Linked DNA regions of Homo sapiens: region 2 is linked to region 1. The links come from fine-mapping of genetic effects on gene expression. A gene starts in region 1. The other region holds a variant in brackets. All regions are shown on one strand. Distances are between the middles of the regions.

The links. PIP is the estimated chance that this variant, and not a neighbour inherited with it, causes the effect.
Region 2: its variant is fine-mapped to the expression of BRAT1 in monocytes (Quach 2016, PIP 0.95).

The regions. Positions count from the first base shown.
Region 1 is chr7:2,552,910-2,558,273 of GRCh38, reverse strand. It overlaps BRAT1 (BRCA1 associated ATM activator 1), which reads left to right and starts at 2,750. Exons shown (of 14, transcript NM_152743.4): 1 at 2,750-2,787; 2 at 3,827-3,969. The coding sequence starts at 3,843. RefSeq lists an enhancer at 2,166-2,843 and a silencer at 2,756-2,995.
Region 2 is chr7:2,531,677-2,537,040 of GRCh38, reverse strand. No RefSeq gene overlaps it. Among named protein-coding and RNA genes, the nearest start is that of MIR4648, 7.3 kb to the right of the region's middle. RefSeq lists enhancers at 39-538, 539-1,040, 1,750-2,669, 2,670-3,590, 4,776-5,364. The variant G/C (reference allele first, on the strand shown) is at 3,131.

The sequences.
Region 1 (5,364 bases):
CTGAATAACTTCTTTTTTTTTTTTTTTTGACGGAGTCTTGCTCTGTGGCCCAGGCTGGAGTGCAGTGGTGCGATCTCCGCTCACTGCAACCTTTGCCTCCTGGGTTCAAGCGATTCTCCTGCCTCAGCTACCCGAGTAGCTGGGACTACAGGTGCGTGCCACCACGCCCAGCTAATTTTTGTATTTTTAGTAGAGACGGGTTTCACCACCTTGACAAGGATGGTCTCGCTCTCTTGATCTCGTGATCCGCCCGCCTCCACCTCCCAAAGTGCTGGGATTACAGGCGTGAGCCACTGCACCCGGCCCTGAATAACTATTAATACGTTTAATTATGGGGTGTGTGTCACACTCTGCTGTAATCTCATATTTAATGTACATGTGCCATGTCACATTTCTAAAATCTGAACAGTTCTGAATTCTGAAAAAACATTTGTCCCCAAAAGTTTGAGATAAGAAATTGTGGACCTGGGCCAGGCACGATGGTGGCTCACGCCTGTAATCCCAGCACTTTGGGAGTCTAGGGTGGGTGGATCACTTGAGGTCAGGAGTTTGAGACCAGCCTGACCAATATGGTGAAACTCTGTCTCTACTAAAAATACAAAAATTAGCCAGGGGTCGTGGGTGCCTGTAGTCTCAGCTACTCAGGAGGCTGAGACAGGAGAATTGCTTGAACCTGGGAGGTGGAGGTTGCAGTGAGCTGAGATCACACCACTGCACTCCAGCCTGGACATCAGAGCGAGACTCCACCTCAAAAAAAAAAAAAATTGTGGACCTGTGCAATACAATATTCAAATCTGGAGCCAGACTGCTTGGGTTCAAATCCAAACTGTGCCAATCCAGTAGCTGTAAGGCCTTATGAGTTAGCCTCTCTGTGCCTCATTTTCCTCATCTGATGGGCTGGTAGTGGTACTCTCCTACCGTTGCTGTAGAATCATACAAGTTTACAGTAAGTGAAGCACTTAGCACAGTGCTGTTGTTGAGTTTTCTTTACTCCACAATTACCTAACTGGGTGAATGTTAGTATCTCATTTCACAATGAGGAACCAAATTTCAGGGAAGATAACTGTGCATTTCAAACTTTTTCACACATGTAGTTCTAAGGATGTACGTGTGTGTGTGTGTGCAGGGGGCATGCAAGCGTCAGGGAAGTTGCTTTTCCAAGGTTACCCAGCACGGCTGGGCGCGTTGGCTCACGCTGGTAGTCCCAGCACTTTGGGAGGCCTAGGTGGGCGGATCACCTAAAGTCAGGAGTTCGAGACCAGCCTGGCCAACATGGTGAAACCCCGTCTCTACTAAAAATACAAAATTAGCTGGGCGTGGTGGCCCGCACCTGTAATCCCAGCTACTCGGGAGGCTGAGGCAGGAGAATCGCTTGAACCCAGGAGGTGGAGGTTGCAGTGAGTCAAGATTGAGCCATTGCACTCCAGTCTGGGCAAAAAGAGTGACACTCCGTCTCCATAAATAAATAAATAAAATAAAGGTGACCCAGCAAAGTCAGTGCTTTTAAATTTTTAAATTTTAATATCCATAGGAATTCTGCTTTGTTTCCTAAATCTGGTGTTGGCTCCCAACAATCTTGCTATAAAACAATGCTTTGGGAACATGAGCCTTGTCTATCCACTGGCTTTGAGACTCTCGAACACACAGTTAGTGTTTTGAACTCAATTTTTTGGACCTAGTTTTTCTGCCTGTTTGCTTTCTTAAAACACAGGGTCTTGCTCTGTTGCCCAGGCTGGAGTGCCGGGGCAGGATCATAGCTCACTGCAGCCTTGAACTTCTGGGCTCAAGCGATCCTCCCGCCTCAGCCTCTGGAGTAGCTGGGACCACAGGCGCATGCTACCAGGTCTGGCTGATTTTCTTTTTTTTTTTTTGAGACGGAGTCTCGCCCTGTAGCCCAGGCTGGAGTGCAGTGGCACCATCTTGGCTCACTGCAACTTCCGCCTCCCAGGTTCAAGAGATTCTCCTGCCTCAGTCTCCCGAGTACTTGGGATTACAGGCGCGCGCCTCCACGTCCGGCTAATTTTGATATCTTAGAGATACAAAAATTAGAGACGAGACGGGATTTCGCCATGTTGGCCAGGCTGGTCTCGAACTCCTGACCTCGTGATCCGCCCGCCTGGGCCTCCCAGAGCGCTGGGATTACAGGCGTGAGCCACCACGCCTGGCCTTTTTTTTTTTTTTTTTTTTTTTTTTTAAATTTTAAGAGATGGGGTCTCGCTTTGTTGCCTAGGCTGGTCTCAACTCCTGGCTTCAAGCAATCCTCCCAACTGCGCCTCCTAAAGGGCTGGAATTACAGGCATGAGCCACAGCGCGGCCGCGGAGGACTTAATTTGAGAACCTGAAGCTAAATGACCAAGGGCTTTGGTGCACGGATCAGGACGCTTCTCTCCGGCACATAGTTTTCTCGCTCCCGCCGGTGCAGACACTGGGCGCCCTGCAGGCGAAGCCCCGCCCCTCCGGACACAACCCCGCGCCTTCCTCAGAGATCCCCGCCCTCGAGACGCCCCGCCCACCCACCGGATGCTCGGCATGAACCACTAGGCGCCTGGCGGGGGTGATCTGTCGGAGCGACCGGCTTGGCGCCTGCCTGTCCCCAGCCCCTCTCAGCTTGAACTCCTTCCTTCAAGTCTGGGCCCTCGAGGCTTCCAGAGCGGCCTCCAGGGGTGCAGTCTCAGTTCCCCACGCCAGCCGTCTCCGTCCTCCGCCTCCTCCGGGCCTGGCAGGTGGCACTGTCCGGAGGCGGAGCCTTGGGCGAGGGGTGGTTGCGGCGGAGGACGCAACCGAGCGGTGAGGCGCGTGGGCCTTCGGGGGTCGAGGTCGTGGTAGTGGGGCGCGGGGAGGCCAAGACCCGGCCGAGGGGGGCGGGCGGGCCAGGGAGCAGCCCAGCCCGGGGCGTGCGCGACCTGGGCTCGCTTCCCAGCCCGACTGTGGCCGCCTGCTCTGGCGCCCCTTCTGGACTCTCGGGCCTGGCGCTCGCGGCCAAAACTGACTTCAAAGTGTGGGGAGGGTTCCTCTTCCCGGGACGCAGCCTTCCCGGGCATTGGCAGACGGTGCCCCGGTTAGACAGAGCCGCTGACCACCCCGCCCACCCCCGAGGCTGGACGCACGGATGCACACCTGGTCCTGGGAGAGACAGGCGCCCCTTCCTTTCCGCACCCCGCCGCCCCCCTCTCCCCCCCGCCGGCTTCAGATGCAGCCACCACTAATCCTGGGAGGGACAGACACACGGACAGGTGCCCCTTCCCCTCCTCACCCTCCTACTGGCTGCAGAACAGCAAATGCAGCCACCACTGACCCTGAGAGGGACAGACACACGGACAGGCGCCCCTTCCCCTCCGCACCCCCCTGCTGGCTTCAGGACGTCAAATGCAGCCACCACTTGACGCTGGGAGGGACAGAAACTTTCCAGCCCAGGCTGGCCCTGGGGCATGGGTAGACATCCCCTTGCACACATGGCTGACCCCGGAACTCAAAGATGCCCCTGACTCTGGCCCACCTGCAGCCTGGGCCAGCACCACGCTGTTGCCCCGACTGCACCAAAGACCAAGGGTGACAGACTTTGAGTTCCGGAGGCCTTGTGGTTTCAGCTAGACCCTCATCTGCCCCTTTCAGCCCCGCCACCAGCGCTCAGGGCCCCACCTAGACCAAAGCTTTGCATCCATCCCTGCAGTACAGACCTCTGGTCTGGGGATCATGGTTCTCCTGGTCTGAGATGAAAGTTCTGGGGCCCCTTCCCAGGCCTGAGCAGGCATGGTGGGCTGCTGTGACTAGAGCGAGCTGGGTCTGGAGTGGGCATTGAGGTTTGGCTCTCACATTGCCTTTGCAGGGCCTGCGGCCTCACCATGGACCCAGAATGCGCCCAGCTGCTCCCGGCTCTCTGTGCTGTTCTGGTAGATCCCAGGCAGCCGGTGGCAGATGACACCTGTTTGGAGAAGCTCCTGGACTGGTTTAAAACGGTCACTGAAGGAGGTAAGGAGGTGGTGCTGCTGTTTACTGCCTATCCAGAGACCAGACGCAGAGGCTGGGACAGGGAGCAGGGGCCAGATGGGGACTCCCCTGTCCTGGAGGAAGGGCAGAAACTGCCAATCAGATGTCTTTCCTTCACTTCCTAAGGATTATCTGTGGCAGACTGAGGGCAAGTTAAGATGAAGCCCGAGAGAATGATCTGGAGAGTTAGAGCCTGAAATTCAGCCAGTTGAGCCACGATCAGGGCACCCCAAGGTTCAGTTCTACAGAAGGCGTGAACAAACTTGTTTTATTGTTGTTCTCGTTGTATTTAGTGTGTTTAAGACATCAGATTTGTTTTCTTTCTGATTATGAAAGTAGGGGCCGGATGCAGTGGCTCATACCTGTAATCCCAGCACTTTGGGAGGCTGAGGCGAGCGGATTGCTTAAGTCCAGGAGTTCAAGACCAGCCTGGTCCAACATAGCGAGACGTCATCTCTAAAAAAAAAAAAAACAAAAATTAGCTGTGCCTGGTGGCGCACCTGTAGTCCCAGCTACTCTGGAGGCTGAGATGGGAGGATCCTTTGAGTCCGGGAGGTAGAGGTTGCAGTGAGCTATGATTGTGCCACTGCACCCTGACCTGGGTGATAGAGTGAGACCCTGTCTCAAAAAAAAAAAACAAAGTAATACATGTTCTTTAAAACATGAACAAAAGAGTAAAGAGGAAAATTAAACCATCAACGTTTTAATTTACTCCCAGCCTTTTCATAACACATAAAGCTGTATTTTTCTGGGGAAAAAAAAATGAGGTCATACTGTAAACACAATTTTGGTGTCTTGCTTTCTCTCTTGCTATCATAGTGAGTGTTTTCTCCACATAATATGTTAATGTTATTGACTACATGTTATTTGCTGTAGGAATAGACCATAATTAATTGAATCACTCCACTGTCAGATGTTTATATTTCTCATTTTTCATCATTTTAAGTAGTGTCATAGGTCAGGCGCGGTGACTCATGCTTGTAATCCCATCACTTTGGGAGGCCAAGGCGGGTAGGTCACTTGAAGTCAGGAGTTCGAAACCAGCCTGGCCAACATGGTGAGACCTCGTCTCTACTAAAAATAAAAAAATTAGCCGGGCATGGTGGCATGCGCCGTAATCCCAGCTACTTGGGAGACTGAGGGGGAGGATCGCTTGAACCCAGGAAGCGGAGGTTGCAGTGAGCCCAGATCGTGCCACTGCACTCCAGCGACAGAATGGACTCTGTCTCAAAAAAATAGTGTCAGTCGAGCGCGGTGGCTCAAGCCTGTAATCCCAGCACTTTGGGAGACCGAGGCAGGCAGATCACGAGGTCTGGAGATCAAGACCCTCCTGGCTAACATGGTGAAACCCCGTCTCTACTAAAAATACAAAAAAAA
Region 2 (5,364 bases), 21 kb after region 1:
CTCTTTTGTTTTTAATTAGCTGGGCATGGTGGTATGCACCTGAAGTCCCAGCTACTTGGGAGGCTGAGGTGGGAGGATTGCTTGAGCCCAGGAGTTCGAGGCTGCAGTGAGCCGTGATCACACCACCGCACTCCAGCCTGGGTGACAGAGAGAGACCCTATGTCAAAACAACGCATTGAGTGCTTGGAGTTCTCTGCATTCTTGGCAGCACCTCAAATCTGTGCTAGCACCTCAAATCTGTGCTAGAGAAGACCTGTAGCCCTAACTTCTGAAGAACTTTTTCTTTTTGCTTCTCTTAGCACCAAGTGTCTTTCGTGTGGAGGGAGCAGGGCTAATTCCGTTTCATTCTTACCCTAAGAGTGTAGACCTTTAGGTTTTCAGCTTAAGGTGGGAAGGGTTTTCTATAATGCTCCCCATTTTGGGCAGGACTGGCCCTTGACTTCTGTCCCCCTGACCCCTCAAGGCCACAGAATGAGAACCCAAGTTTGCTGGTTTTGGCAAATGCCCTCCAACAAAAGGGCACCTCCCGGGTGGCACAGCCGTGGGCTGGTGCGCCCCACCAGGGTGCAGCAGTGACATCAGCCCCGCCTCGGGGCACATGTCCCTTCCTGGTGACAGCAGGCTAGGTGCCTGGACCAGCCGTTTCCCTGAAGACGATGAAACACGCTGGGTGAAATATCCAAAGGCCAGGAACACTGAACAGCTGACAAGATAGCAGGTAATTAAATGCCAGGCCTCGTGCTGGAGGAAAACTGGACTCAGATACAAGGCCCTCCCACAGGGATCTGGAGAGCCTGGCTCTCAGCTCTGGCCTGGGGGAACTCAGAGAGGGAGGGGCTCTGCGGATCAGCTGCCCCTAGGCAGTAACACTGAACCGCAGTACCCAGTGAAAAGAGACTGCAGGGCCCAGCGTGGTGGCTCACGCCTGTAATCTCAGCACTTTGGGAGGCCGAGGTGGGCGGATCTCTCGAGCTCAGGAGTTCAAGACCAGCCTGGCTAACACGGTGAGACCCCGTCCACTAAAAATACAAAAATTAGCTAGGCATGGTGGTGGGCACCTGTAATCACAGCTACTCAGGAGGCTGAGGCAGGAGAATCACTTGAATCCGGGAGGCAAAGGTTGCAGTGAGCCAAAATCACACCACTGCACTCTATCCTGGGCAACAGAGTGAGACTCTGTCTCAAAAAAAAAAAAAAAGGAGCGAGCCGGGGCGCAGTGGCTCACGCCTGTAATCCCAGCATTTTGAGAGGCCGAGGCGGGTGGATCACTTGAGGTCAGGAGTTCAGGACCAGCCTGGCCAACATGGTGAGACCTTGTCTACTAAAAATACAAAAATTAGCTGGGCATGGTGGCAGGTGCCTGTCATCCCAGCTACTCAGGAGGCTGAGGTAGGAGAATCGCTTGAACCCGGGAGGCAGAGGTTGCAGTGAGCCAAGATTGTGCCACTGCACTCCAGCCTGGGTGACAGAATGAGACTCTGTCTCAAAAAACAAACAAACAGAGACTAGAAACTCACACCAATCATTACCTCGTAAGTGCAGTTAGCTCAGGAAGTACAATATTTCCAAAAAGGGGAGAGGTTGCAATTAGCCAAGACTGTGCCATTGCACTCCAGCCTGGGCAACAAGAACGAAACTCCGAGGAAAACCTCTGACACACAGCCTCTCCCTCTCCCTCTCCCTCTCCCTCTCCCTCCCCCTCCCCCTCCCCCTCCCCCTCTCCCTCTCCCTCTCCGTCTCCCTCTCTCTCCACGGTCTCCTTCCACGGTCTCCCTCTGATGCCAAGCCAAAGCTGGACGGTACTGCTGCCATCTCGGCTCACTGCAACCTCCCTGCCTGATTCTCCTGCCTCAGCCTGCCGAGTGCCTGTGATTGCAGGCGCGCGCCGCCACGCCTGACTGGTTTTCGTTTTTTTTTTTGGTGGAGACGGGGTTTTGCTGTGTTGGCCGGGCTGGTCTCCAGCTCCTAACCGCGAGTGATCCGCCAGCCTCGGCCTCCCGAGGTGCTGGGATTGCAGACGGAGTCTCGTTCACTCAGTGCTCAATGGTGCCCAGGCTGGAGTGCAGCGGCGTGATCTCGGCTCGCTACAACCTCCACCTCCCAGCTGCCCGCCTTGGCCCCCCAAAGTGCCAAGATTGCAGCCTCTGCCCAGCCGCCACCCCATGTGGGAAGTGAGGAGCGTCTCTGCCTGGCCCCCCATCGTCTGGGATATGAGGAGCCTCTCTGCCTGGCTGCCCAGTCTGGAAAGTGAGGAGCGTCTCTGCCCGGCCGCCATCCCATCTAGGAAGTGAGGAGCGCCTCTTCCCGGCCGCCATCCCATCTAGGAAGCGAGGAGCGCCTCTTCCCCGCCGCCCATCGTCTGAGATGTGGGGAGCGCCTCTGCCCCGCCGCCCTGTCTGGGATGTGAGGAGCGCCTCTGCTGGGCCGCAACCCTGTCTGGGAGGTGAGGAGCGTCTCTGCCCGGCCGCCCCGTCTGAGAAGTGAGGAAACCCTCTGCCTGGCAACCGCCCCGTCTGAGAAGTGAGGAGCCCCTCCGCCCGGCAGCTGCCCCGTCTGGGAAGTGAGGAGCGTCTCCGCCCGGCAGCCGCCCCGTCCGGGAGGGAGGTGGGGGGGGGTCAGCCCCCCGCCGGGCCAGCCGCCCCGTCCGGGAGGTGAGGGGCTCCTCTGCCCGGCCGCCCCTACTGGGAAGTGAGGAGCCCTCTGCCCGGCCAGCCGCCCCGTCCGGGAGGGAGGTGGGGGGTCAGCCCCCCGCCCGGCCAGCCGCCCAGTCCGGGAGGGAGGTGGGGGGTCAGCCCCCCGCCCAGCCAGCCGCCCCGTCCGGGAGGGAGGTGGGGGGATCAGCCCCCCGCCTGGCCAGCCGCCCCATCCGGGAGGTGAGGGGCGCCTCTGCCCGGCCGCCCCTACTGGGAAGTGAGGAGCCCCTCTGCCCGGCCAGCCGCCCCGTCCGGGAGGTGAGGGGTGCTTCTGCCCGGCCGCCCCTACTGGGAAGTGAGGAGCCCCTCTGCCCGGCCACGACCCCGTCTGGGAGGTGTGCCCAGCGGCTCATTGGGGATGGGCCATGATGACAATGGCGGTTTTGTGGAATAGAAAGGCGGGAAGGGTGGGGAAAAAATTGAGAAATCGGATGGTT[G/C]CCGGGTCTGTGTGGATAGAAGTAGACATGGGAGACTTTTCATTTTGTTCTGTACTAAGAAAAATTCTTCTGCCTTGGGATCCTGTTGATCTGTCACCTTATCCCCAACCCCGTGCTCTCTGAAACATGTGCTGTGTCCACTCAGGGTTAAATGGATTAAGGGCGGTGCAAGATGTGCTTTGTTAAACAGATGCTTGAAGGCAGCATGCTCGTTAAGAGTCATCACCACTCCCTAATCTCAAGTACCCAGGGACACAAACACTGCGGAAGGCCGCAGGGACCTCTGCCTAGGAAAACCAGAGACCTTTGTTCACTTGTTTATCTGCTGACCTTCCCTCCACTATTGTCCTGTGACCCTGCCAAATCCCCCTCTGCGAGAAACACCCAAGAATGATCAATAAAAAAAAAAAAAATAAAAAAAAAAAGAACGAAACTCCATCTCAAAAAAAAAAAAAAAAAAAAAATCTCCCAAAGAAATACCAATAAACAAGAAAATAGTCAAATGTAAAAAAAAAAAAAAAAAAAAAAAAAAAATTTCCAAAAAGGTGACCACAGGGAGAAAAACATGAAGATAACCACCAGCTCAGACCCAGCCGGGGCTTGTGGCCATGCCCACCTGCTCCTGTGTGTCCTGGGCCTCGGGCAAGCCACTCATCCTCTCCCCACTGTTTCCAGTCTGTAAGCTGGGATTAGTGACGCTGCCTTCTCAGTTGTGGGAACCTAGAAGGCAGCAATGGGCCTCTCTCCCTAGGTTGCAACCCGGGGCTGGCACGTAGTAGGTCTGTTTCCAGCTGCCACACACGCTACCTTACCAGGGGTCCCCAAGAGACAGGACAGGGTGATGGGCCCATTTCACAGGGGGAAAAACCGAGGCAAAGAAAGGCAGTGGAGACTCGTGCTTCTGCTTCAGTAGCTCCTGCCATGGACTTGTCATGGGAACCCCCTCCCACAAGCTCTGTCCCCGGCACCCTCTGGCACTGTTAGCCAGCGGAATCCAGCTGTCACCATGGCCTGGTTCTTAGCACCCCTGGGAACTTTTAGAGCCTCTGGCCTGTGCTAACTGAGGTTGGGCAGCTGCTGGCCAGGGCCCTAGAGAGAGGGGTATCAGGTAGCTAGTGCTGAGTAACAAATAGCTCCAAACACATGACTTCACATGTCCTTAGTATTAAAGGGCCTGGTGGTACTGCTGCTCATTGCTAGGCCTGGCAAGTCCTAGCTGGGCTCACTCACACATCTGTGGGCAGCTGGGAGCTAGCTAGTCCAGGATGGCCTCAGCTAGGGTGACCCAGGCTCCATCGCCCTCTTGCCTTCCAGCAAAGCAGCCCAGCCCGTTCTCGTGCTATAGCAGGAGTCGGGGAGAGCAGGCAGAGGCACGCATGTCCCTGGAGGCTTAAGCTCAGAGCTGGGAATGTCATTGCTGTCACCTTTTATTGGCCACAGCAAGTCATAAGACAGGCTCAGATTGAAGGATGGGGAAGTAGACGCCACCTCTAGACAGGAGTTGGGGCAAAGTCACACAGCAAAGGGCGTGGTGATTCAGGGAGGAGTGGGGCATCGGGGACACGTTTGTAACTGATCTACCACAGAGGGGAGCCCCCCTTTGAGAAAGTGCTTGGTGGGCCTTGGTGCTTACGCAGCCACGGACCAACCTGCTAGATGGGGCCTTCAGTAGGGTGGCGGGACGTCAGTTTAGCCTCAGGATTCGACTCCGAGCCTCTTGCGAGACCACGTCTTGGGCAGCATCGTAGACCCGGCTGTGAGCACAGAGTGGCTCTTCCAGAAAGTTTGTTGAATGACTGACTGACCTAAGTCAGTCCCTGTGCCAGGCAGCCCAGAGGGACCAGCCCAGAGCCTCCTTCTCGGGGTGCAAGCCTGGCTTGGGATTGGGGGGTGTCTGCACTCGTGGAGCCCCCCATGCCTGCCGGGAGCCTGAAGACGCAGAGACCTCCTGCCTCGCCTCGCCCCCTCCGTGGGGACCCTCTTCCCCACACTCCTTGGTTCCTGTCGGAGCCAAGATGTGTCACCATGGAAACCGCTTGGCAAACGCTGGCAGGCAGAGGCGGCCAACAGCAGCTCTCCCGATCGAGCTCCGGGCACCGGCTGGAGCAACGTCGCGGGACGGCGTGAGCGAGCACACCCAGCCGTGTGTGACACGCGTGGGGACAGAGGCCGGGGCGGCTGCGGGAGGGCGTGCGGGGAGGTCAGGGCGCCCCGGCGTGTATGCGCCCACGTGC